Homo sapiens: one gene and its partners. The protein of the gene in region 3 interacts with the protein of the main gene of each other region in a pairwise test. Each region holds a gene or a part of one and is shown on either strand. Other genes may lie near its edges. The genes, in order: SFXN1, HMOX1, SLC16A7 and SMAGP.

Region 1 (6,683 bases), on a different chromosome or scaffold from region 3:
GACAACAGAGTTACTGTAGCAAAACAAATGCAGAAACATGGCCAAGGAAGTTAAAATGCTCAGCTCTGTATCAAGTCTTTTATTAAGGCACTCCCCAAACTTAGGTTAATTTAGACTTTCTCTGTTAGTAAATGCCAGTGCCAGGTTAGAATCAGATCAATAATATAGAAGCATGTTTCCATCACCGTCATGTGCAGAGGTGTTGGCCATCCAAGTTTCAAGCTGAAATCCATCCCCCACGCCCATCATTAATATTCCTGGAATCACATTGTCATAGGAGTTTGGGGGGTGGGTGGGTGTGCCTTTATGTATATGAGGTTCAAAAAGGTGGGAGACTGGTAGCCCAAAATAGAAATATATTTCTTGTTAAAGGCATAATACAAAAATATCTTTTCATTAGGAGTTGCTGATGGTACTGTAGATATTAACTTTGAATGAAAAGTACCATCAGTTGTAACACACAAACTGCTTTATCCTTTATGTACAAATAAAAGAGAGAATTTATTTTCATTCTGAGTTTATTTAACATTTCATCCAGTTGAACTGAAATAATACATGGCCTCCAACACTGGCAAGACGCTGTGCTAATACTGAAATAAAAGCTGCCAGTCAGTAAACACTTACAATCATCATCCTTTGTATCATGTTAATAGAAATATTAATAACTACTTAGCTTTATAAGCTTATTGCACTTCATGTGGATTTTTTTTTCTCCAGAAAAGGTATTTCTAAAAGATCGGCAAGGATTGCCAATCTTGATTTGTTCTTTCTTATAAACTGTGATCAACATACAGTTGATAGCTTTATATAAAAGCATTAAGAGTCTGAAGCATCAAAAAACAACGTTTAAAAAGATGCAGCTCCATGTTCATCATCCCTTTTATAATCTCTTTTTTTTTTTTTTGAGATGGAGTTTCGCTCTTGTTGCCCAGGCTGGAGTGCAATGGTGCGATCTTGGCTCACTGCAACCTCCAGCTCCCGGATTCAAGCGATTCTCCTACCTCAGCCTCCCGAGTAGCTGGGATTATAGGCATGTGCCTCCATGCCTGGCTAATTTTTTGTATTTTTAGTAGAGGCGGGGTTTCTCCATGTTGGCCAGGCTGGTCTCAAACTCCTGACCTCAGGTGATCCACCCGCCTCGGCCTCCCAAAGTGCTGGGATTACAGGGGTGAGCCACCGCACCCGGCCATTCCTTTTATAACCTTTCACACACATAACCGGAGTGTGTAAAATTTTGGTTAGTTTGTCAATCTTCTAACCAGTCATTAGCTCTTCACTGGAGGTTAACATTCTGAAATGGAGCTACACACTACCTGGTAGGGGGAGGACTCTGAGAGGAGCGGGACACCTGGGGCAGGCAGCAGTGCCTTAGCTTCTTATGAAAAGAGCCCTTCAGCACCTCATGGAGAGCTGCCCTGAATTTCAGGCTTTTACCACTTTATAAAGAGACGCGTCGAGGACAACAGAATCTGTCCAAGGCCAGAATGTCATGGGAAAACCGTTTTGCTTCCAATGGTTTAAGACAGAAAATCTAAATAAGAAGACTCTGGCAGCATCAAGGAAGGCTCTGAGTGGCCCAAAGCTTCAGATCTATTAATCCTTTCAGAGAAAAGAGAAACACAGACACAAGGCACGCCATTTTTTCTTTATGAGGAAATTCAGTCTGGTCACATTGTCAGAAAAAAAATCTACCAAAACTAAATAGTTTCTATATTTTTTTCATTTACAATCTCTGAATACAATGATCTACACTTCATGAAATGTCACCCCTCAGTATCCGTGGATGCTTGGTTCCAGGACCGCCCTCCGATACCAATATCTGCAGATGCTCAAGTTCCTGATATAAAATGGCACAGTATTTGCATATAACCTAGGCACATCCTCCTGTATACTTGCTAAATCATCTCTAGATTGCTTATAACACCTAATACAATGTAAGCACTATGTAAATAGTTGTTATACTGTATTGGTTTTTAAATTTGTATTATTTTTCATCGTTATGTATATTTTTTATCTTTTTAGAAAATATTTTCAGGCCGGGTGCGGTGGCTCACGCTTGTAATCCCAGCACCTTGGGAGGCCAAGGCGGGCGGATCACGAGGTCAGGAGATCGAGACCACAGTGAAACCCCGTCTCTACTAAAAATACAAAAAAATTAGCCGGGCGTGGTGGCGGGCGCCTGTAGTCCCAGCTTCTCAGAGAGGCTGAGGCAGGAGAACGGCGTGAACCCGGGAGGCGGAGCTTGCAGTGAGCCGAGACTACGCCACTGCACTCCAGCCTGGGTGACAGAGCGAGACTCCGTCTCAAAAAAAAAAAAAAAAAAAAAATTTTCCATCCAAACTTGGTTGAATTCACAGATATAGAGCTCACGGATACAGAGGGCCAACTGTCTATGACGTTAAACATCTACAGAGTTGAAACATAATCTGTCATATTAAATATATTATCTATGAAATCACTACAGATGATGTAAACAGTGGTACATGGTTTCATTATTTTCAAATGAAGTGGAATGCAACATACAATATTCAAGTAAAATTCATTGTGACTGATTCATACACACATTATCACTGTATCTTTCTGAAAGCCAAAGAGATCTATAAGGATGACAAGAAAAGACATGTAGGTAGCTGGAACTGTAGTCTCACTTCTTACCAAAAAAAAAACAATGAACTGGATTCAGCCCACTCATACAGCATTGGTATTGAATATACTTCCAAAATTTGACATTTGTACATTTCAGTTATTTCATTATTTGATGTAAATAATTGAATATAAAGTCAATAACTGCAAGGTAAGATTATCATCTTTATAAGAACAAAAAACAATAAATTAAAAGTCAACCAAGGCAATCCACTCACAATCTGAATGTATATAATGATCCAGCAGGGAAGGCATGTTGCAGTGGTCTGTGACTGACTTTTGGAAGGGGTGTGAAGGAGCTTTTACCCTCCAAATCCAAAAGCTTCATCACCTTCATTGGGCTAGCGCAATCCCCAAACTAGAAGCAAACTGCCCTTAATATTTCAGGGTAAGTTTTTATAGATTAGCCCAGAGCTTTTGTATTTTCCCAGTTCACTGCTGAGATCTCCTTGATTTGCAATGGGAGTGAGATGAAAATTCAGTATTTTAAACAGATTTCTTTTTTCACTGATTGATAATCAATAGAACATTTACTGACCATATACTGAGCACCTATTCTATGCCTACCAGTGCTTTTTTAAAACCTGGGTGAGGGCTGGTATATCGTCTTTGAAAAACAATGACTATAAAAGCTACAGGAAAGGTATTTCTATAAATCATAACATGATTCAGTGTAAGGGAGTATCAGGCACTTGGCCCACGCCAGGTGCTCTGTTAAAGTAGCAGCTTTATTCTAAAAGGCTAATGTGGATCTTTAAAAGGTTTCCGTAACTGGGAGAACCCAGGTTGAACAGGATTTTTCTCACCAGCATGGCTACACCAGCTTTGCAGTGGCAGAATGAGCTGCAGAGGTTTCCTCCCTGCTTTACAATCCCTTATTGAAGTACACGCGTCGCAATTCAGGATGGCTCTCTTGGATCTTAGCTTGCAACTCGGCCTCCAAGCTTGTCACAGACATGGAACTGGGATAAGGGAGAAATGACAGGGTTATTACACAGGCAGAGGTGAGAATCAGGACCTAGAAAGAGCAGGGAGAAGGCACAGGTGTGGAGATCCCAGGACTGGTACAGTGGGTCTTGTTGGAGAAATGCTTCATGCGGCTAGAAAACGAGATCACGTTCCTTTCAGAAAAATGTCACTCATAATGAAAGAAATGCACTGGAGAACCCAACACCCAACTTTTCCCTCTCATATCATTAAAAGGTGAAATCTCTTATTGCCGGCAAGAGTGTATGGTGATGACACTCTCAGGCCCTGCTGGTGTTGGAAAAACCATTTGTGGCAATGCCACTTCCTAAGAAAAACGTATCAATCATTTGCAATGTTCACCATTGATAAAAAAAGAGATATGCAATCAGTGAAATGCATAACATTGATAATCTGCCTACATTAATGTGCTTTTGTTTACTGTATGTAATACACGCTTATTAAAAAAATTTCAAAAAATACTAAAATGTACAAAAAAAAAAAAAAAACCAAAACATTTATAATCCCGCTGAGAGATAACCACTGTTAGTCTTTAAGTGCTTAAAAATGTATTTGAAGGTATTATGGGTGTATATATATTAAAGCTTATTCTTTAAGAGAAACGCACACTCATTAAAGTATAAAGAAAAATTGTCCAGAATACCTACCAGAAAAACTGCTAATATTTTGATATGTAATTAGTTTAAAAAAAATATTTGAGGCTGGGCGCAGTGGCTCACACCTGTAATCTCGGAGCTTTGTGAGGCTGAACCAGGAGGATTTCTTGAGGCCAGGAGTTTGAGACCAGCCTGGGCAACCTGGTGAGACCCAAATTTTTGTATCTATAAAAATAAAAAATAAGACAGGTGTGTTGGTGTATGCCTGTGGCTCCAGCTACTCAGGATGCTGAGGCAGGAGGGTTGCTCGAGCCCAGAAGTTCAAGGCTGTAGTGAGCTATGACTGTGCCATTGCACTCCAGCCTGGGCAAGAGAGTGAGACCCTGCCTCAAAAACAATAAAAAAATTGATTAATATAGTTGACATGTGATAGACTGTAAGGTTAAAAAAAGTCAGGATATAAGCTTATATTTAAAATATGCAAAACAAATTTTAAAAATTACGAATATAGAAAAAAGGTAGGAAAAAAAATCCCATGATGGCTATTGTTTATGTAGTGGGCCTTTGAGTGATTTTAAATGATGATGACGACACTGATGATGGTAATGATAATGGCTATGACTTACAGCTCACTTGCTGGGCCAGACGTTATGCATTTTAACCCTTAGGAAAACTCTGTAAGTCCAGTATTATAATTGTACAGGTAAGGAAACCTGAGGTGCAACTGAGATGTTGAAGGCAGATCTTTCTTGATCCCAAAGCCCTGCTATACCACCTCTTGGTCTTTCTGTTTTGCCACTGATCTCTAAGTATCTGTAATTACTATGAATGTATGTTAAAGGCCCAAGTCTGATCTTGGAATTAAAGTTATTCAAACCTTGGTGGATGATGGGGAGTATTCTCTTTTTTATCTTCCAGGAGAGTTTGTTTGAAATTGGAATAATCTGTTTCTTGACAGTTGGGAGAAACTTACCTGTAAAACTACCTGTTTCTTGTGTTTTCTTTGTAGGAGGAAGATTAAATGCTGCTTCAGCTTCCTTAATGACTATCTGGCCTATTCTGACTTTCTAATTTTTCAGCTTTGCTAATATTTTTTCCAGAAATTTGTCTATTTTGCTTGTTTTCAAATCTGTTGGTATAATGTTGGTATTATTTTTAATCACTGCTGAACCTACAGTTATACCTCTTTTTCATTCATATTATTTGTACTTTTCTCTTTCTCTTTTTGTTTTGATTAATCTCACCAGACAACTGTCTATTTTGTTTCTATTTTCAAAGAACCAAGATTTCACTTTGTTGATCCTCTACTCTTTCTGTTATTTATTTTATTGATTTCTGATCTTCATCTCCTTCCTTCCTTCTTTTCTGATGTTTATTCTTTTGTGCTTTTTTTTTTTTAAGTTGGGACATTTAGTGCATTGATTTTCAGCTATTCTTCATAATATAAACATTTAAAGCTATAAATATCTCTCAAAGCAACACATTTGCTGCTTCTCAAAAATGTTAATAAAGAATGTTTTCATTATCACTTGTTCACATAGGAGACGGGAAACTGTGGTGCATTCATACAATGCACTATTATACAACAACAACAATGAATGGACTATAGGTACACACAATAATGTAGATGAATCTTAGTTCTGACACTGAATAAAAAGAACAAGTACTAGAAGACTATACATCTTATGACAGTGTGACACCCTTGTCTAAAAAGTTCCTAAGACAAACTAAAGATACATACACAAATATAAAATGCAAGAGCATGAAATTCAGCATAGTGGTTAAATCTGCAGGGGAGGCAGGGACACAGGTTGGGAGGAGCCTATAAGATGTAACTTATTGGAGATATATATATATATATATATATATATATATATATATATATATATATTTTTTTTTTTTTTTTTTTTTTTGAGACAGAATCTCGCACTGTTGCCCAGGCTGGAATGCAGTAGCGTGATCTTGGCTCACCACAGCCTCTGCCTACTGGGTTCGAGCGATTCTCCTGCCTCATTGGGCACTGAATTTGTGGATATTCATTATATTATTAGTATAAGTAAAATAAAAATAAGCAAAACAGGGTCATGCTTGGATCAATGAGGATACTATGTTATGAGCCAAGGAAAAACTGAGGAGCCAGAGACCTCAAGAAGCCAAACATACAATGTATAAACAACAAAACAGAGTAAGAAGCTATTTTAAAATACAGTAAAACAAAAGAGGATTGGTTTCTCAAATGTAAAACCACACGCTTTCTGAGGGCCTTGACCTAAGGACACTAGTAGTTACAGAAAGCTTTCCATTTCTACCCCTAGAGTTTCAATGAATCATAAAAAATAAATGTTGGGCTATATTTTATTTCTTGCAGCACTCAAAGAAAAAAGGCCAAAGTAGAAAGTTTCTCTATGGGTTTTCAAATCTAAAACCCTTTCAATCTGAAAATAATTACAGCTACAT
Region 2 (3,665 bases), on a different chromosome or scaffold from region 3:
CACCAAACAGGGCAACCCCATCTTCCATAAAGTCGAGAATTGCATCAAGCAGGGTTCAACACAAATATTCGCCCACCAGCTACTTAAAGCTCACCTCCTGGGCCAGGCACGGTGGCTCACGCCTGTAATCCCAGCACCTTGGGAAGCTGAGGCAGGTGGACCAGCTGAGGTCGGGAGTTCGAGACCAGCCTGGCCAACATGGGGAAACCCCATCTCTACTAAAAATACAAAAATTAGCTGGGCATGGTGATGAACTTCTGTAATCCCAGCTACTCAGGAGGCTGAGGCAGGAGAATTGATTGAACCTGGGAGGTGGAGCTTGCAGTGAACCAAGATCACGCCACTGCACTCCAGCCTGGGTGACAGAGTGAGACTCCATCTCAAAAAAAAAAAAAAAGAAAAGAAAAGCTCACCTTCTGTATTCTCAAACAGACCAGCTCCTGCCAACCCCCTATCACCACTTCTCCTACCGAGCACGCAAGAAACCAGGGAGGAAAAGGTCAGTTCCCCAAGAATAACAAAGCCCATGAAAACTACTTCAAGCTACTATCAGACAATGTTGTTTATTATTTCACACAAAAGTTAGACCAAGGCCACAGTGCCGTTAAACACCTCCCTCCCCACCCACGCATGGCTCAAAAACCACCCCAACCCTGCTATAAAAACAACAGAACACAACAAAAATACTGCATTTGAGGCTGAGCCAGGAACAGAGTGGCTCCAACAAAAATAAGACAAAAACACAAGACACAACATCTTTTCAGGTTTGTGTAAAAATTGCCATGGCCCACGGGGAAAGTGGTCATGGCCGTGTCAACAAGGATACTTGAAACTCAGGGCTTTTGGAGGTTTGAGACAGCTGCCACATTAGGGTGTCTTCCAGGCTCTGCTGCAGGAACTGAGGATGCTGAAGGGCAGGGCTGATCCCTTCGCCCCCTCTGAAGTTTAGGCCATTGCCTGGATGTGCTTTTCGTTGGGGAAGATGCCATAGGCTCCTTCCTCCTTTCCAGAGAGAGGGACACAGTGAGAGGGCTGGAGGCCCTGAAAGCCTTCAGTGCCCACGGTAAGGAAGCCAGCCAAGAGAATTCCCTCTCTAGAAAGAAGGCCTTCCACCGGACAAAGTTCATGGCCCTGGGAGCCAGCATGCCTGCATTCACATGGCATAAAGCCCTACAGCAACTGTCGCCACCAGAAAGCTGAGTGTAAGGACCCATCGGAGAAGCGGAGCCTGGGAGCGGGTGTTGAGTGGGGGCTTCCCTCTGGGAGTCTCCACGGGGGCAGAATCTGAAAGAGAAAATGGGGCAAGGTCATTAACAGGTGGGCGTGCATCAGGGTGTCTGATGTCATAGGAAAGCAAAGCAGAGCGGCCTCAGGGTCTGTGGTACAGTCACTGCCCAACGCCAGGATTCTGCAAGACCACAGACAGGTGTCCCTCTAGCCACTGCTTGAATACCTTCAAAGACGGGCAGCTCACTACTTCTTCAAGCTGTCTGTTCTTCCCTGTGCAGCCAGGCCACATTGTGAAAACATTCTTGGGCCCAGGCGTGGTTTTCAGACTTCTGCCTGCTCCCTGTCCTCTCCTTAAACTTTGCCAGCAATTAGGTCTGAGCTGTAAATCTTCCTCTCAAACTCACACGTTTGCTAAGCATGGTGATGATGGGGCAGGAGCTAGAAAGCAGGAGCTCTGAGGTCAAAATTCAAGTTCAGTCCCATCCCTGGTTATTAAAATGTGATAGGGCCGGGCGCAGTGGCTCACGCCTGTAATCCCAGCACTTTGGGAGGCCAAGGCAGGTGGATCACGAGGTCAGGAGTTCAAGACCAGCCTGGCCAATATGGTGAAACCCCGTCTCTACTAAAAATACAAAAAATTAGCCGGGTATGGTTGCGAGTGCCAGTAATCCCAGCTACTCGGGAGGCTGAGGCAGAGAATTGCTTGAACCCAGGAGGCAGAGGTTGCAGTGAGCCAAGATTGCGCCACTGTACTCCAGCCTGGGCAACAGAGTGAGACTCCATTTCAAAAAAAAAAAAAAAAAAGATTTAAAACATGATAGGCCAGAGCCAACCATGCAACCTGGGTAGATGTGCCACCTGCCTCCTCAGGCACAGAGTGGGTGCTCCCTAGGTCTTTAGAAGCAGGACAGAGTCCAGGGCAGGTCTCTGGAGCCAGACCAGCTGGGTTTCAATCCTAGCCCCGCCCTGGGCTATGAGAAGGGCTTCCCCAGAGAAAACAGGGCCTTAGGTCTGGTGGCCCAGGGCTGCGGTCACAGGAAGTACAAGCAAGCAAGCAAGCAAGCAGGTACACTGTGACATTTACATGTGTGTTGTTCATATTAAAGGCTCCTGCTCCTTCTGATGCATTAGGGGTGCAGTTCTCAAATGTTTTGGTTCCAAAACTCCTTTATACTCAAATGCAACCAAGGATCCAAAAGAGCTTTTGTTTGTGTGAGTATAGCTATCACTATTTACAAAATTAGATATTAAAACTGAGAAATTCTTTTTCTTTTCTTTTCTTTCTTTTTTTTTTTTTTTTGAGATGGAGTCTCGCTGTCGCCCAGGATGGAGTACAGTGGTGCAATCTCGGCTCACTGCAACCTCTGCCTCCCGGACTTAGGAGATTCTCCTGCCTCAGCCTCCCGAGTAGCTGGGATTACAGGTGTGCACCATCACACCCAGCTAATTTTTATATTTTAGTAGAGATGGGGTCTCACCACATTGGCCAGGTTGGTCTCAAACTCCTTACCTCAAGTGATCCCCGTGCCTCAGCCTCCCAAAGTGCTGGGATTACAGGCATGAGCCATCGTGCCCGGCCAAAACTGAGAAATTCTTAACATACAAGAACATACAGGCACACATTCCATGAGCCATCAAATCCATGAGAGAGCATCACATGTCACATAACCTTTGGAAAATGCCAACACACATTCATGAGAAAGTGAAACTCTAATTTTCTCATTTATTTTTGGCTTTTTTAAAAAAAGCCAAAAAAAAAAAAAATCTGGGTGTGGTGGCACGTGCCTATAGTCCCAGTTACTCAGGAGGCTGAGGTGGGAGAATCCCTTGAACCTGGGAGGTTGAAGCTGCAGTGAGCTGTGATTGTGCCACTACACTCCAGACTGGGTGAAAGAGCGAGACCCTGTCTCAAAAAAAAAAAAAAAAAAAAAAAAAGGCCGGGCGCGGTGGCTCACACCTGTAATTACAGCACTTTGGGAGGCCGAGGCGGGCGGATCACAAGGTCAGGAGATCGAGACCATCCTGGCTAACACAGTGAAACCCCGTCTCTACTAAAAATACAAAAAATTAGCCAGGCATGGTGGCGGGCACCTGTAGTCCCAGCTACTCGGGAGGCTGAGGCAGGAGAATGGCGTGAACCTGGGAGGCGGAGCTTGCAGTGAGCCGAGATCATGCCACTGCACTCCAGCCTGGGTGACAGCAAGACTGTCTCAAACGAAAAAAAAAAAACCAAAAAAATAGTAGTAGTGTTATAAAAATGCTTTGTCCTCACAGACCCCGTTGAGGGGATACTAGGATTACCACCTCCCACAGCCAGGGTACCACACTTTGAGAACTGCTTCATTAGGGTGACGTCTCCCTACCCCACCAAATAGCCAAGCCCTCCGGGGTTACAAACCCCTAGCAGAGGGGTCCGTGTGGTCTGGCACAAGTGA
Region 3 (7,053 bases):
AGGTAGAGATAAAAATGACATGATGATGATTATCATTTATTGACTACCTACATTATTTCTCCAACAACAACTCATAAAATAAATTTTATTATTTCCAAAATGAGAAAACTGGGGCTCTAAAAGTTACATACCTTGACTGTGGTCAAACAGCTTAGAAGTAGCTTAGTCGAAATTTCATTGGGCTATATCTATCTGTCTTCAAAGTCTCTGATCTGACATGTGACACAGATTGAGAAAAAAGGAAAAGAGAATAAAGAGATAACTACAGAATAAGACTGGCTACATAGAGAAGATGGCATGAGAGGTCTACAAAAAAAATTGGCTCAAGGACATAAATTGCTTAACCTTGCTTTGAGAATATATTTGATATCTGTGTAACTCAAGACTAAAAAGGACTTACCTGTTCTATTTACAGCCATCTCTCTAACATCCAAAACAGTGTCTGGAACACAGCAGGGGAATAAATAGTTGTTAAAGTACTGCATTCTATGCCTTAAAATATGTCAGAGGCTTTATTCAAAATCCCTCTTCACTGTAAATTTGATATATACCCATCTATGAGAATTCTCCAGACCCTACTCTGTTCATGCACTCACTGATACCCACAGCACAGGGCTTCCATGGGAGTCTTGCCACCTCCCACGTATTCTATCCCTACCACCTTGCAAACTGAGTTATAGGAATGACATCCTGGACTTACTGTTCCTTCGGTCCCTACTGGTTCTCCAGCCTCCTTGAATCCACAAGGGGTTGTTACTTTCTCTAAGCTTTCTAGCTTGGTTCCAGGTAACTCCTTCAAATAGTAAGGAAGCCTTATCATTCCTGTTGACTTTATGTTGTAACAGACCCAAACTCATTATACCTGACTACTAGTCTCTGTTTGAAAAAATATTTATCAGACTTTGCCTGTAATCCCAGCACTTTGGGAGGCTGAGGTGGGAGGATCAAAAGGTCAGGAGATCAATACCATCCTGGCTAACATGGTGAAACCCCATCTCTACTAAGAATACAAAAACAAAAATTAGCCGGGCGTGGTGGCGGGCGCCTGTAGTCCCAGCTACTTGGGAGGCTGAGGCGAGAGAATGGCATGAACCTAGGACGCAGAGCTGGCAGTGAGCCAAGATTGTGCCACTGCACTCCAGCCTGGGTGACAGAGTGAGACTCCGTCTCAAAAAAGAAAAAAAATAAAATTATCGGACTTTTCCCAAGAATGTCTTAAAATTTACTGCAGCATGAAATACTTGAAATTAATACTATTGAAAAGGTACATTTTGTTCAACAGATTAAAATCCAGACCCTTCCAATGACAAGATGTGTAACCTTGGGCAAAATACTTCACCTCTGTGCTCTACTCTGCCCATCTGTAAAATGAGGATAACAAAAATGCTTCCTCATAAGGTTTTGAGGATTAAATTAGTTAAAACATGTAAGGTATTAAATATAGAAGTGTTCAACAAATGTAAGCTATTCTTACTTAAAGCTTATCTTTATAACTTTACTTAATAGCCACTTATTTGGTCCAATGTCCTTAAATTCACTTATTATACACACACACACACAAGACATGTTTGTTGTTTTACTACTTAGGGCATTAATCTATAAAAGAGTATAATTTTACTGAGTGGCTAATTTCCAATTACAATCAAAAGTTAAAGTGAGCTTTCCTATCATCCTCCAGTGGTTTATTCATTTATTTATTTATTAAACTGTTGGCACAGAAAGGAAAGTTCAGCCCTGAGATAACTATGGGATTCTCCCAGAGGTAGATCGCTATATATACCTTGATTTCCCACCCTGACACCTGAAGAGATATTGACAAGTTACATCATGAAAAACAATTCCAATATTTACATTCAAAACCATTGTTATCCTTGAAGTATTCTATGCATTTGTGGACTTTCCTAAAGTTGAATTACTCCACAATACAGCAGCCTTAAATAAAGAATGTAACCAGGTCACATGCAAAAAACAGGAAGAAAAACTGAATATGTTAAATTGATAGAGAAAACAAAAGACATGTGAGCTGTCACCACATTGGTAGAGTATGTCATTCAAATGAGAAAGGGATTCATTTCATGTGGCCCCAGGAAGCTGAACAAAGACCCTAGGTAGAAACAAGAAAATTTGAGTCACAAGTAGAACTGCCTTTAAAAGAACAGTCTGCCTCAGTGTGTACACTTAAATAATAGATGGTGGTTTATTGAACATAATGAAAACAACACATAAAAGTGGAAACAGATGTCCTCCAAGTTTCTTGCAACTCTATAATCCACCAAAATGCTAAAGATGACATAAATATGAATACATTATTATTCCTGACATCTACAACTTTATAGTATATTAAGAAACTGAATAATTATATAAAATCAAATATAATAGAATGTCAAGACATTCTATTATACAATGTCAAATAAGACATTATAAACATAATGTTCCTGAAATTTTAGAAAAATTATTCTACCTATCCAGAGGTGTCAGAGGAAAATTTGTATGTGGTGTTTAAGCTCAACTTCTTAGAAGGTGAGGTTAGAGCTAGAAATCGTAGGACGTTAGATTCATTTCAAGATAAAAGAACAGCATGGCCAAAGATTTGGCGGTAGGAAGTAGAATGAGAATGAACGAGGCATGAGGACAGTTCCATTTGAGTTGAGTATGATGGTAGTGGGAGATGAACATGGAACAGCTGTTTGGACTTACATCATGCAGGGACTGAAATGTCAGTCCTTGGACCTAGGTGATGGGAGTGTTACTTAACAAAGGTGTGCTTCCATGAGAGTATCTGATACCATGTACAGAATTAACTGGTAGGGTGAGAGACCAGAGGTGGGAATACCCACTAAGAGACTATTACATGACTGTAGGTAGTATGTCAAAAGCACCTGAAACTTCTGGCAACAACAGAATAGAAATAAATAATTAAAAAATTATTTTGGATGTACACAAGTCCAGAGAAAGGGTGGTCTCAAAAGCTTCTAGGCTAGAATACTGCTGATATCAATATGAAGAATGGGGGTGACAGAAAGAAAGAAGACAAAAAGGAAGGAAGAGACCACAGGATACTGGAAGTATCAAAAGCACAGTAAAGAGAAGCTGTCCTGCAAACATCTAGAAATGTCTGGAAATGCCTAAAAGTTGAGGGAAGGTCAGGACTACAGCAAATGGCTTGGGAGTTATTCCTACTGAGGTGAAAGCGGAGGTCCAGAGCAGATGAGCTTTGTCAATCAACAGAATGCAGGCTAAAGAAAAGTCTGGCCAGGCTCAGTGGCTCATGTCTGTAATTCCAGCACTTTTGGGGGCCAAGGTGGGCAGATCACTTGAGGTCAGGAGTTCGAGACCAGCCTGGCCAATATGGTGAAACCCTATTTCTACTAAAAATACAAAAAATTAGCCAGACGTGATGGTGGGCGCCTATAGTCCCAGCTACTCAGGAGGCTGGGGCAGGAGAATCACTTGAACTCAGGAGGTGGTGGTTGCAGTGAGCCAAGTTCATGTCATTGCACCCAAGCCTGGGTGTTGCAGTGAAACCCTGTCTCAAAAAAAAAAAAAAAAAAAAAAGCCCAAAACACAAACTGGGGAAGACATACTTATATTGAATACGAGGTGAAAGGCGAGCTGGAGAAGAAGCAGTAAATGAGCGGTGAGAGAAGTAACAAAATAAAGAGCACATGAAAGCCAAAACAGGAGTTCAAGAAGCATTAGGGATGAATACTGCCAAAGGTTATTAACAGTCCAAAGCAAATAATTTGGAGGCTAGGAGGTCAATGATGCTCTGATTATTAAAGTTAACAGTTGTTATGCCTTACTAATAAAGAACTCATTGTTTCAAAACAAAATATTTTTATACAAGAGTATTATTTTCATCCTTTAATGAAAGGCAAAATAATTTTGAAAGTACTCTGAAAGTACTCTGATCCCAAATAAATTGTTTAAACAATCTCAATTTGATCTTATTGGCTGACAGTTTTCAACCATATGGATCACCATTCCACCACAGGTATATTAAAATGTAGAGAGGCATTTTTGATTGTTACAATGACTAAGGGAAAGCCACTGACTTATAGAAAACAGAGATAGATCATTGTTACGGACTTAATGTGTGCCTCCAAAATTCATGTTGAAGTCCTAATCCCCAAAGGAGTGGTATTAAGACATGGGGACTTTGGGAGTTAAGTAGGTCATAAGGAAGGAACTCTCATGAATGGGATTAGCACCCTTATAAAAGAGAGCTCTCACTCTCATCCCACCATGTGAAGATATAAGAAACCAGCAGTCTACAACCCAGAAGAGGCCTTCACCAACACCTGGACCATGCCAGCACCCTGATCTCAGATTTCCAGCCTCTAGAACTGTGAGAAATAAATTTCTGTTGTTCATAAGCTACCTAATCTGTCTATAGTTTGTTATCGCAGCCCAAATTTACTCAGAAAGGTCACAGACACCCAATGCTCTGCAATGAAAGAGACAGTCCTACACAATGAAAAAGTGTCCCACCCCAAATGCCAATAATCCCACCTGTTGAAAAATACTGTCACCGACTGCCATTTATCACTGAATTTGCCTTTCACATATTTGAGAAGAACTGATGGAACTTCAAATCCTAGAAATTTTGAAAATCATTTTTAAAATAAGATAAATGTTAATATCCCTTAGAAACTTATCAAATGCATGCTTTGTAGTTTTATTTTTTATTCTTATCTAATCTAGTTAAAAAAGATATAGATATTCAAGTTAATTACTTAGTAGGGCAGCTGCTTTGTAAAAAGTACCATTCTTTTACATATTAGCTTCAATAGAAATCTGATTAGAGGTATTGACTAATTAATAATGATACATATTGTATTATGAGGTGGAGAAACAGCAAATGCTTATAATAAAATGCTTTCTACAAAATACCAACACTGTATATGGATCTTTATTTATCTAAACAAATATTTCATTTGTGTTCACCACTTACACAAAATATTTTCTATTGAAAGTTGCTATTTTAATGCCAACTATTACATAAAACTAATCACCAGGCTCTATAATTGAACCATACAGACATTTTTGTGGAACTTAACGAAAGTACCTTTAGGCCAGTATCTTGTAGCTGTCGTTCAGTTGTCCCATAGGATTTTCATGAGGTCCTTTGAGACTTCAATGAGTATTAATGAAAACATTTGCGGGAGTTTTAGTATTAGGTCAGAAAAATTATTTCCAAAAATACTTGCTTCATTTATCAACACTGATATTTGTGAATATGTTGAAATTGTCTATGGTGCACCCAAGTCCCAGTTAGTCCAGCTCCAGCTGGACTAGTTTTATTATAGTCAGCTCCAATTTGTTTAATTTTCTCCCACATTTTTAATGATTACAGTTGATATATAAAGACCCTCCACTTATTTACTAATTACCAAATACGTGTGATAAGTGTTATTTATTCCTCTCGACAATGGTCCATTTTAGGCTAGTCTCTCATATTATGATTTTAAACAGCTGGATCTCTCACATAGGTAGACTCAGCCCCTGGATTCACCATTTATAGCAGCAACTGAGAAAATGAAGCTTTCTCACAAGTTAAAAAAAAAAAAAAGTTCCATTATTCACTGAGAGCTAGTGTGCAGATGTTTCCCAAGATATTTCTTAATCACTTTGATCCAAACAGTTTTGAGAAAGCCTGTGACAAACCAGGATGACTTCTCAAAGGGAGTCCACTTAATGGTTTATTATGCAATTCAACTTTGTTGTGCCATCTAATGGCAAGTTTGGCATTTCAGAGTTCCCAAAAATCTGTTAAAAATAAGCCAGTGATGCTTATGATAAACTAAAAAACATAAAGCCAAATATTTAATACCTAAAAGTAGTTATTGAGTTATTTCTATGTATGTGCTCAGCACAGTGCTATTTCACAGATATTATCTCATTTAATGTTTACAACCAATATACAAAATTGGTTACTATTCTATTTTTACACATGAAGAAACCGAGACTTAAAGAGGTCTAGCAACTTGTCTTTGTTGATAAGTGGCAAAGCTAAAATCAAAACCCAGACAGGCTGGACTTCAGAGCCCCTCGTCTGCCCTGTCCTGTCCCAAGCAGCAGCTCCACAGAGGTTCCAAGATGAATCAGATATACCATCTACTCTCAAAGACCATGTAGCCCAGGAAGAGAGATAGGATGCCTTCCCAAATAATTGTAATTCAAGGTAAAATATAAGAATCAGCCTAAGAGAAGCCCAGATCAAGTTACGAAGTAGTTCAGATGAACACAGATTACTTCAAGATGTGGAAAACAGGAGGGTACTTTTTATTTGGGATGAGTTGAAGGGAGGAGGGGAACAAAGGGCAATAACAGAATGTAATTATTCTTTGCCGCATGCCATTCTATTTATCAGGCACAGTATAAAACAGCTTATATTTGTTATCGTCTTTGGTGTTCAGAACAACAATACAAGTACTACCACAACATTGCATAAGACAAAGCCAGCCAGTGGCTTAACTAAAATTTAAATCCAGTGCCCCTGCATTATGGTCTGCCCTTTTAATTTCTTCCTTCTTTTTTTTTCCTGGTCCACCTTGAGTAGGTCACTCTTTGATGTTTGCACTTCATGGGCACCTTTTGCTAATTTGTCAAACCAAAGAGAATATTTTCCTATTCTGCATAAATGAGCATCATAAACTAGATGATTAGATGCAAGACAAGGAAAAGGAATCCTCAAAAGAGCCTCAACTATTGTGTTCTCAGGGCAGAGTTCATGCTGGATTTCCTGCCAGATTCAGTGTTGAAGGCGGGAGACACTTGGACTTGCTAATTTTTATTTCCTCCTCTTCCTCCTTCCCTCTAGTTCTGCTTCCCTCCCTCTTTCCTTCTTTCTATAATCAGTTGTTCTGAACCATGACATGCCAGACACTGTACTGGGCTATGGAGAAAACAACAGGTAAGGTCTTTGCTCTTATTTAGCTTCATGCAAGGCAGAAGCTATATGACACAGTGGTTAAAGCCAAACAGATCGCATCGGTGCTTGCCCCAGCTCAACCACTTACTAACTGTACCAGCTGAATAAGCTATGAAACT
Region 4 (7,053 bases), 8.3 Mb from region 3:
TTTGTTGTTGTTGTTGTTGTTGTTTTTTGAGACGGAGTCTCGCTCTGTCACCCAGGCTGGAGTGCAGTGGCAGAATCTCGGCTCACTGCAAGCTCCGCCTCCCAGGTTCACGCCATTCTCCTGCCTCAGCCTCCTGAGTAGTTGGGACTACAGGTGCCCGCCACCACGCCCGGCTAATTTTTTGTATTTTTTTAGTAGAGACAGGGTTTCACCGTGTTAGCCAGGATGGTCTCAATCTCCTGACCTCGTGATCCACCCGTCTTGGCCTCCCAAAATGCTGGGATTACAGGCGTGAGCCACCGCGCCCGGCCAATTTTTTTTTTTTTTTTTTTTTTTTGAGACGGAGTCTCATTCTCTGGCCCAGGCTGGAGTGCAGCGGCGTGATCTCGGCTCACTGCAACCTCTGCCTCCTGGGTTCAAGCGATTCTCCTGCCTCAGCCTCCCGAGTAGCTGGGACTACAGGCGCCCACCACCACGCCCAGCTGATTTTTTTGTATTTTTAGTAGAGACGGGGTTTCACCATGTTAGCCAGGATGGTCTCGATCTCCTGACTTCGTGATCCACCCGCCTCAGCCTCCCAAAGTGCTGGGATTACAGTATTTTTAGTAGAGAGGGGGTTTCACCATGTTGGTCAGGCTGGTCTCGAACTCCTGATCTCGTGATACACCTACCTTGGCCTCCCAAAGTGCTAGAATTACAGGTGTGAGCCACCGTGCCCAGCCTTAATTTTTTTTTTTTTTTTTTTCTGAGACGGAGTCTCACTCTGTCACCTGGGCTGGAGTGCAGTGGCTCAATCTTGGCTCACTGCAACCTCCGCCTCCCAGGTTCAAGCGATTCTCCTGCCTCAGCCTCCCAAGTAGCTGGGATTACAGGCACCCGCCACTATGCCCAGCTAATTTTTTGTATTTTTAGTAAACACAGGGTTTCACCATGTTGGCCAGGCTGGTCTCGAACTCTTGACCTTGTGATTTGCCCACCTCGGCCTCCCAAAGTGCTGGGATTACAGGCATGAGCCACCACACCCGGCCTGGGTGTCACAATTTTGAAGTGAGCAGGCAAACCATGTCAGATAAGGAAAGCTTGCAAGAGAAAGCCCAGAGAAAAAAAAGGGAGCCTAGAGCTTGAATTCTGTCTTCTAATATGCCAAGGCATGACCTGTACAAGAGAACTAACAGCAGAAACTGGGAAAGACAGATGTCTCCCCAACAGAAGGAAGAGCAAAACTGGACAAAAGCTACGTAGCATCTTGGAGAGAGAATTCTAGGACAGAATGGTTAGTTGAACTAGCTGAGCATCAGAACCCCTCTCAGCCTTAATTTTTGAATTTTTATAAATGGAAAGTGTTCTATTAGAATTCTCATTAAAATCAAATTTTAAAATAAAAAATCCAGACATACTTAGAATGTCTATCTGGAGAGGAATGATGAAATAAATTACAGGCCATCCATTGTGGAAACAGTTGCTAAAACGAATATGAGATCTACAATATTACTGGGACAGGATACATGGTTAGATGAAAAAAGCAAACTGCCAGGTGGTATATGTAGTAGGACTGCATCTTTGTTTAAAAAAAAAAAAAAAAGTAAATTGGCAGAGTGCAGTGGCTTACACCCATAATCCCAGCACTTTTGGAGGCTGAGGTGGGAGGATTGCTTGAGGCCAGAAGTTTGAGTCCAGCCTGGGCAACATAGCGAGACCCCTGTCTCTCTGTGTATTTTTTTTTAAGTAACTTTAAAAAACCCTATAAATATGCATATATATGTTTGTACATAGAAAAGGTCTAGAAAGCTGTTCTCTGAGGGGCATGTATTACCTTTCAAATAAAAGAACATGCTTGGCAAGGTGGCTTACACCTATAATCCCAGCAATTTGGGAGGCTGAGGCCAGAGGATCACTTGAGTCCAGGAGTTCAAGACCAACCTGGGCAACATGGCAAAACCCTGTCTCTACAAAAAATACAAAAATTAACTGGGCATGGTGGCACGCACCTGTGATCCCAGCTACTTGGGAGGCTGAGGTGGGAGGATCACCTGAGTCTGGGAAGGTTGAGGCTGCAGTGAGCTGTGATTGAGCCACTGCTCTACAGCCTGGGTGAAACTGAGGCCCTGTCTCAAAAAAAGAAAAAAAGGACAAACAACAACAAAATAAACTAAGTTCAGGAAAGCTGGCATAAAAGGAGGAAATGGCTTATAGCTTTTCCCCCATTCTCTCCCGTTTCTACCCCATTTTTTTGTCCAAACAAAGGAATAATTATTAAATAGCACTACAGTCTTTCCAAACCTTCCCTGCTCAGGTTCATAAGATTGAAGGCCCCACCCAAGTCCTAACCAATAGCAAATGACCTTCAAGATCTATTCTGTTCACTTACTCTTTTTTTTGTTAACCCAGATACTGGCTGGCTTCTTTGTGGTCCTTGTTCCCAGCTTGAGCTAAATCTCTTATCACTGAGGCATCAGATCTTTTGCCACCTAAGTCTGCCAGCCTACTTATTTGCTCTAGACCTGCCCAGCAGAGGGCGGCTCCCCGAGTTCTTTCCATGGGAAGCCACCCTGGGACTCGGCCCCCTTTCTTCTGCCTTCTCTTTCATGTGCACCAGCCAGTTGGGTGGAGTGAGACCTTGGGAGCAGTACACCATGACAGAAAGAACACAGGCTTGCAGTAAATCAGACTTGGCGCAAAATCCTGCCTCTGCCATTACTAGCTGTGTGACCTTGGGAAATTTTTTTAATCTTTGAAAATTTAACGGTGACTCATGCCTGTAATCCCGGCACTTTGGGAGGTCGGGGTGAGTGAATCACTTGAGATCAGAAGTTCGAGACCAGTCTGGCCAACATGGTGAAACCCTGTCTCTACTAAAAATACAAAAATTAGCTGGGCATAGTGGTGGGCGCCTATAGTCCCAGCTACTCGGGAGGCTGAGGCAGGAAAATTGCTTGAACCCGGGAGGCAGAGGTTGCAGTTAGCCGAGATTGCACCACTACACTCCAGCCTGGGTGACAAGTGGGAAATTCCATCTCAAAAAAAAAAAAAGAAAAGAAAATTCCTTAACTCCCCTGAACTTCAGTTTTTCCTTCCGTAAAATGAGACTAAAACTTGTTTCATTGGGTTGTGGTGAGGAATAAGTGCAATGAAAAATGCTGCTTTGGGAGGCTGAGATGGGAGGATCACCTGAGGCCAGGAGTTTGAGACCAGACTGGGCAACACAGTAAGACCTTATTTCTACAAAAAATTATTTTTAAAATAAAATAAAGAAAAATGCTAAGTGTCTAATACAGGGTGAGGACAACCTAGGCGGTAGCTGGTGTGATCATTTGGTGGCAAGAGATGAGCTTTACCTGGCACGGTGGGCAAAGCCCACAAGGCACAGTTCCACTCTGCCCTACTTCGAATAGGGCTGACTTATGCACTAGGCACAACAGGCACAGTGCCCTGGGCCCACAATGCTTCGAAAGGCCCATGAAAATGTTTTAAATAATTTTCATTTCTTTTATAATTAGAAGAAGGAAAAGAAACAAAATTTTAGGTCAAAGAAATATTAAGGTTGTTATGCCATTCAATTACTAATTATAAATATTAATTATATTATATTATATTCTTCCTTACACTGATGCAGTTGTAAAATATGATTTTTAATATTTTTTTAAGTGAAGGAGGAGCCCACAAAGACAGAAGTGCCCAGGGCTCAGGAGTCATAATGTGGCCCTTCCTTTCAAGGTTCCTGGAGGATATCTTCTCTAGGAAGTCTTTATAGACTGTGAGGGAGGAATAGGTGGGAAGGTGGGGGAAGAGAAATGCAAGACAGGGGTAGAAGAGAAGAGCTGGCCTTTAGTGATCCCATCATTTAAAGTATAAGCTTTCTTCCTATCTGTGATTTCTATTCTTTTGTCTATTGCTGTCTCTGAACTTACACTTGCTTGGACCCAGTGGATAGGAGACTGTCCTAAATCACTACTTCACTCATGTCACTCGCTGGATCAAGAATGCAGCCAGGTGAGGTGGCTTGCGCCTATAATCTCAACAACTCAGGGGCAGAGGAAGGAGCATGGCTTCAGGCCGGGAGAGTTGCCTGAGCAACATAGCAAAACCCTATCTCTACAAAAAATTTTAAAATTAGCTGGGCGTGATGGTGCACGCCTGCAGTCCCAGCTGCTCAGGAGTCTGAGGTGGGAGGATCCCTCAAGCCCAGATGTTTGGGTCTGTAGTGAGCCAGGATTGTGCCACTGCACTCCAGCCTGGGCAACAGAGTAAGATCCCATCTCTTAAAAAAAAAAAAAAAAAAAAAAGGTCAGGCACAGTGGCTCATGCCTGTAATCCTAGTACTTTGGGAGGCCAAGGCAGGCGGATTGCCTGAGCTCAGGAGTTTGAGACCAGCCTGGGCAACATGGTGAAACCCCGTCTCTACTAAAATACAAAAAATTAGCCGGGTGTGGCAGCGTGTGCCTGTAATCCCAGCTACTCAGGAGGTTGAGGCAGGAGAATTGCTTGAACCCGGGAGGTGGAGGTTGCAGTGAGCCGAGATGGTGCCACTGCAATCCAGCCTGGGTGACAGAGCAAGACTCCATCGCCAGAAAAAAAAAAAAAAAAAGAGAAAGAGAGAGAGGACTGATTCAACGATCAATTTTTTAAAAAAAATTTTTAAAGGATATAAATATACAACTGAACAAGAACAAAACAAATCAACTAAAAAATGGGACAAGACTTGAATAGACATTTCTCCAAAGATATACAAATGGTCAATAAGTACATGAAAAGATGCTCCACATCACTATCACTAGGGAAATGCAAATCAAAACCACAATGAGATACCACTTCACACACAATATGATGACTACCATTAAACAGAAAGTAACAAGTGTTGGCAAGGTTGTAGAGAAACTGAAACCTTTATGCATTGCTGGTAGGAATATAAAATGGTGCAGCTGCTGTGCAAACCTATATGGTGGATCCTCAAAAAAATCAAACACAGAATTACCACATGATATAGCAATTCCACTTCTGAGCATACATCCCAAACAACTGAAAGCAGGGTCTCAAGAAGATATTTGTACACCCATGTTTATGGCAGCATCAGTCACAATAGCCAAAAGGTGGAAGCAACTCAACTGTCCATCATAGATGAATGGATAAACAAAATGTAATATACACATACAACAATATTATTCAGCCTTGAAAAAGTAGGAAATTGTGACATGCTACAATATGGATGAACTTTGAGAATATTATGCTAAGTGAAGTTAGCCAGACACAAAAGGTCTATTGTATGATTCTACTTACATGAAGTACCTAGAGCAGTCAAATTTACATAGACAGAAAATAGAACGGTGTTTGCAGGGAAATGGGGAATCAGTGTTTAATGGGTGTCAAGTTTCGGTTTGGGAAGGTAAAGTTCTGGAGATGGATGGTGGTGAGGAACATGAATTACTTAATACAGTAGTCCCCCCAGGCCAGGCACTGGCCTGTAATCCCAGCACTTTGGGAGGCCGAGGTGGGCGGATCACGAGGTCAGGAGATCAAGACCATCCTGGCTAACACGGTGAAACCCCGTCTCTACTAAAAATACAAAAAATTAGCCGGGCGTGGTGGTGGGCGCCTGTAGTCCCAGCTACTCGGGAAGCTAAGACAGGAGAATGGCGTGAACCCATGAGGCGGAGCTTGCAGTGAGCTGAGATGGCGCTACTGCACTCCAGCCTGGGTGACAGAGCGAGACTCCGTCTCAAAAAAAAAAAACAACAGTAGTCCCCTCTTATCTGCGGTTTTGCTTTCCTAGGTTTCAGTTACCCGTGGTCAACTGCAGTCCGAAAACATTAAATAGAAATTTAACAGAAAAAGAAAATTCCAGAAAGGAACAATTCATACATTTTAAATTATGTACCGTTCTGAGTAGCGTGATGAAATCTCACACCCTGCTCCATCCTGCCTGGAAAGTGAATCATCCTTTTGTGTCCATGCTATAAACGCTTAGTAGAGTACCACAGCGCTTGTGTTCAAGTAACCCTTATTTTACATGACAGTGGCCCCAAAGCACAAGAATAGTGATGCAATTTGGACATGCCAACAAGAAGTGCTTCCTTTAAGTGAAAAGGTGAAAGTTCTTGACTTAAGAAAAAAAAAAAAAGAACTGTGTACTGAGGTTTCTAAGATCTATAGTAAATAAGACATTTTAAGTGAGAGAGACCATTTTCACATAACTCTTATTACAGTATATTGTTATAGTTGTTCTATTTTATTATTATTGTTAATCTCTTACTGTGCCTAATTTACAAGTTAAGCTTTATCATAAGTATGTATGTACAGGAAAAAACACAGTATAGATGGGGTTCAGTACTATCTGAGATTTCAGGCATCCACTGGGGTTTTTGGAATGAATCCCCTGTGGATAAGCGGGGACTACTCTACCACTGAATTGTCTGCGAAAAAATGGCTAAAATGGTAATACCTGTACTATGTTTATTTTACCATAAATTTTAAAAAAGAAAAAATGGCATGAGCCTGTAATCCCAGCACTTTGGGAGGCCGAGAAGGGCAGATCACTTGAGGCCAGGAGTTTGAGACCAGCCTGGCCAACATGGCGAAACCCTGTCTCCACTAAAAGTATACAAATTAGCCAGGCGTGGTAGCGCACGCCTGTAATTCCAGCTACTAGGGAGACTAAGGTGGGAGAATTGCTTGAACCCAGGGGGCGGAGGTTGCAGTGAACCGAAATTAAGCCACTGTACTCCAGCCTGGGTGACACAGCAAGACTTGGTCTCAAAAATAATAATAATAAAATTTAAAAAATGTAAACAGCTCCCCCTTGCCAAGGTTCTAATCCCTCAGCTAGCTGCCAAGGTATCACCTTTTTTCCCTTGTGGGCAGGATTATTCTGGAGGTCCTCTGCCCACCCGCTTCCTGAACATCCTCCAGGGTAAATCGTCTCTGTAGCTTCACACATGGTATGAGGTATTCTACCTTTATCTAGAGCAGGTACACACGAAAAAGGTATTCTACGTTTCTCTAAGATACCTGCTGCGCCCCTTTGCCTGTATGAACCTTGTCCGTCTTTCAAGGGCAAGA

Evidence for each region.
Region 1: the proteins of SLC16A7 (region 3) and SFXN1 interact in binary tests that used the Homo sapiens proteins (3 or more experiments, as listed by UniProt).
Region 2: the proteins of SLC16A7 (region 3) and HMOX1 interact in binary tests that used the Homo sapiens proteins (3 or more experiments, as listed by UniProt).
Region 4: the proteins of SLC16A7 (region 3) and SMAGP interact in binary tests that used the Homo sapiens proteins (3 or more experiments, as listed by UniProt).

What each region holds. Positions count from the first base shown.
Region 1 is NC_000005.10:175,523,560-175,530,242, reverse strand, and holds the end of SFXN1 (sideroflexin-1), read right to left. Parts: intron 3,606-6,683; coding exon 3,509-3,605; 3' UTR 501-3,508; downstream 1-500. UniProt on the Homo sapiens protein: Amino acid transporter importing serine, an essential substrate of the mitochondrial branch of the one-carbon pathway, into mitochondria.
Region 2 is NC_000022.11:35,391,087-35,394,751, reverse strand, and holds the end of HMOX1 (heme oxygenase 1), read right to left. Parts: intron 1,285-3,665; coding exon 1,154-1,284; 3' UTR 545-1,153; downstream 1-544.
Region 3 is NC_000012.12:59,598,982-59,606,034, reverse strand, and holds part of SLC16A7 (monocarboxylate transporter 2), read right to left. Parts: intron 1-7,053. UniProt on the Homo sapiens protein: Proton-coupled monocarboxylate symporter. Catalyzes the rapid transport across the plasma membrane of monocarboxylates such as L-lactate, pyruvate and ketone bodies, acetoacetate, beta-hydroxybutyrate and acetate.
Region 4 is NC_000012.12:51,260,367-51,267,419, forward strand, and holds part of SMAGP (small cell adhesion glycoprotein), read right to left. Parts: intron 1-7,053. UniProt on the Homo sapiens protein: May play a role in epithelial cell-cell contacts. May play a role in tumor invasiveness and metastasis formation.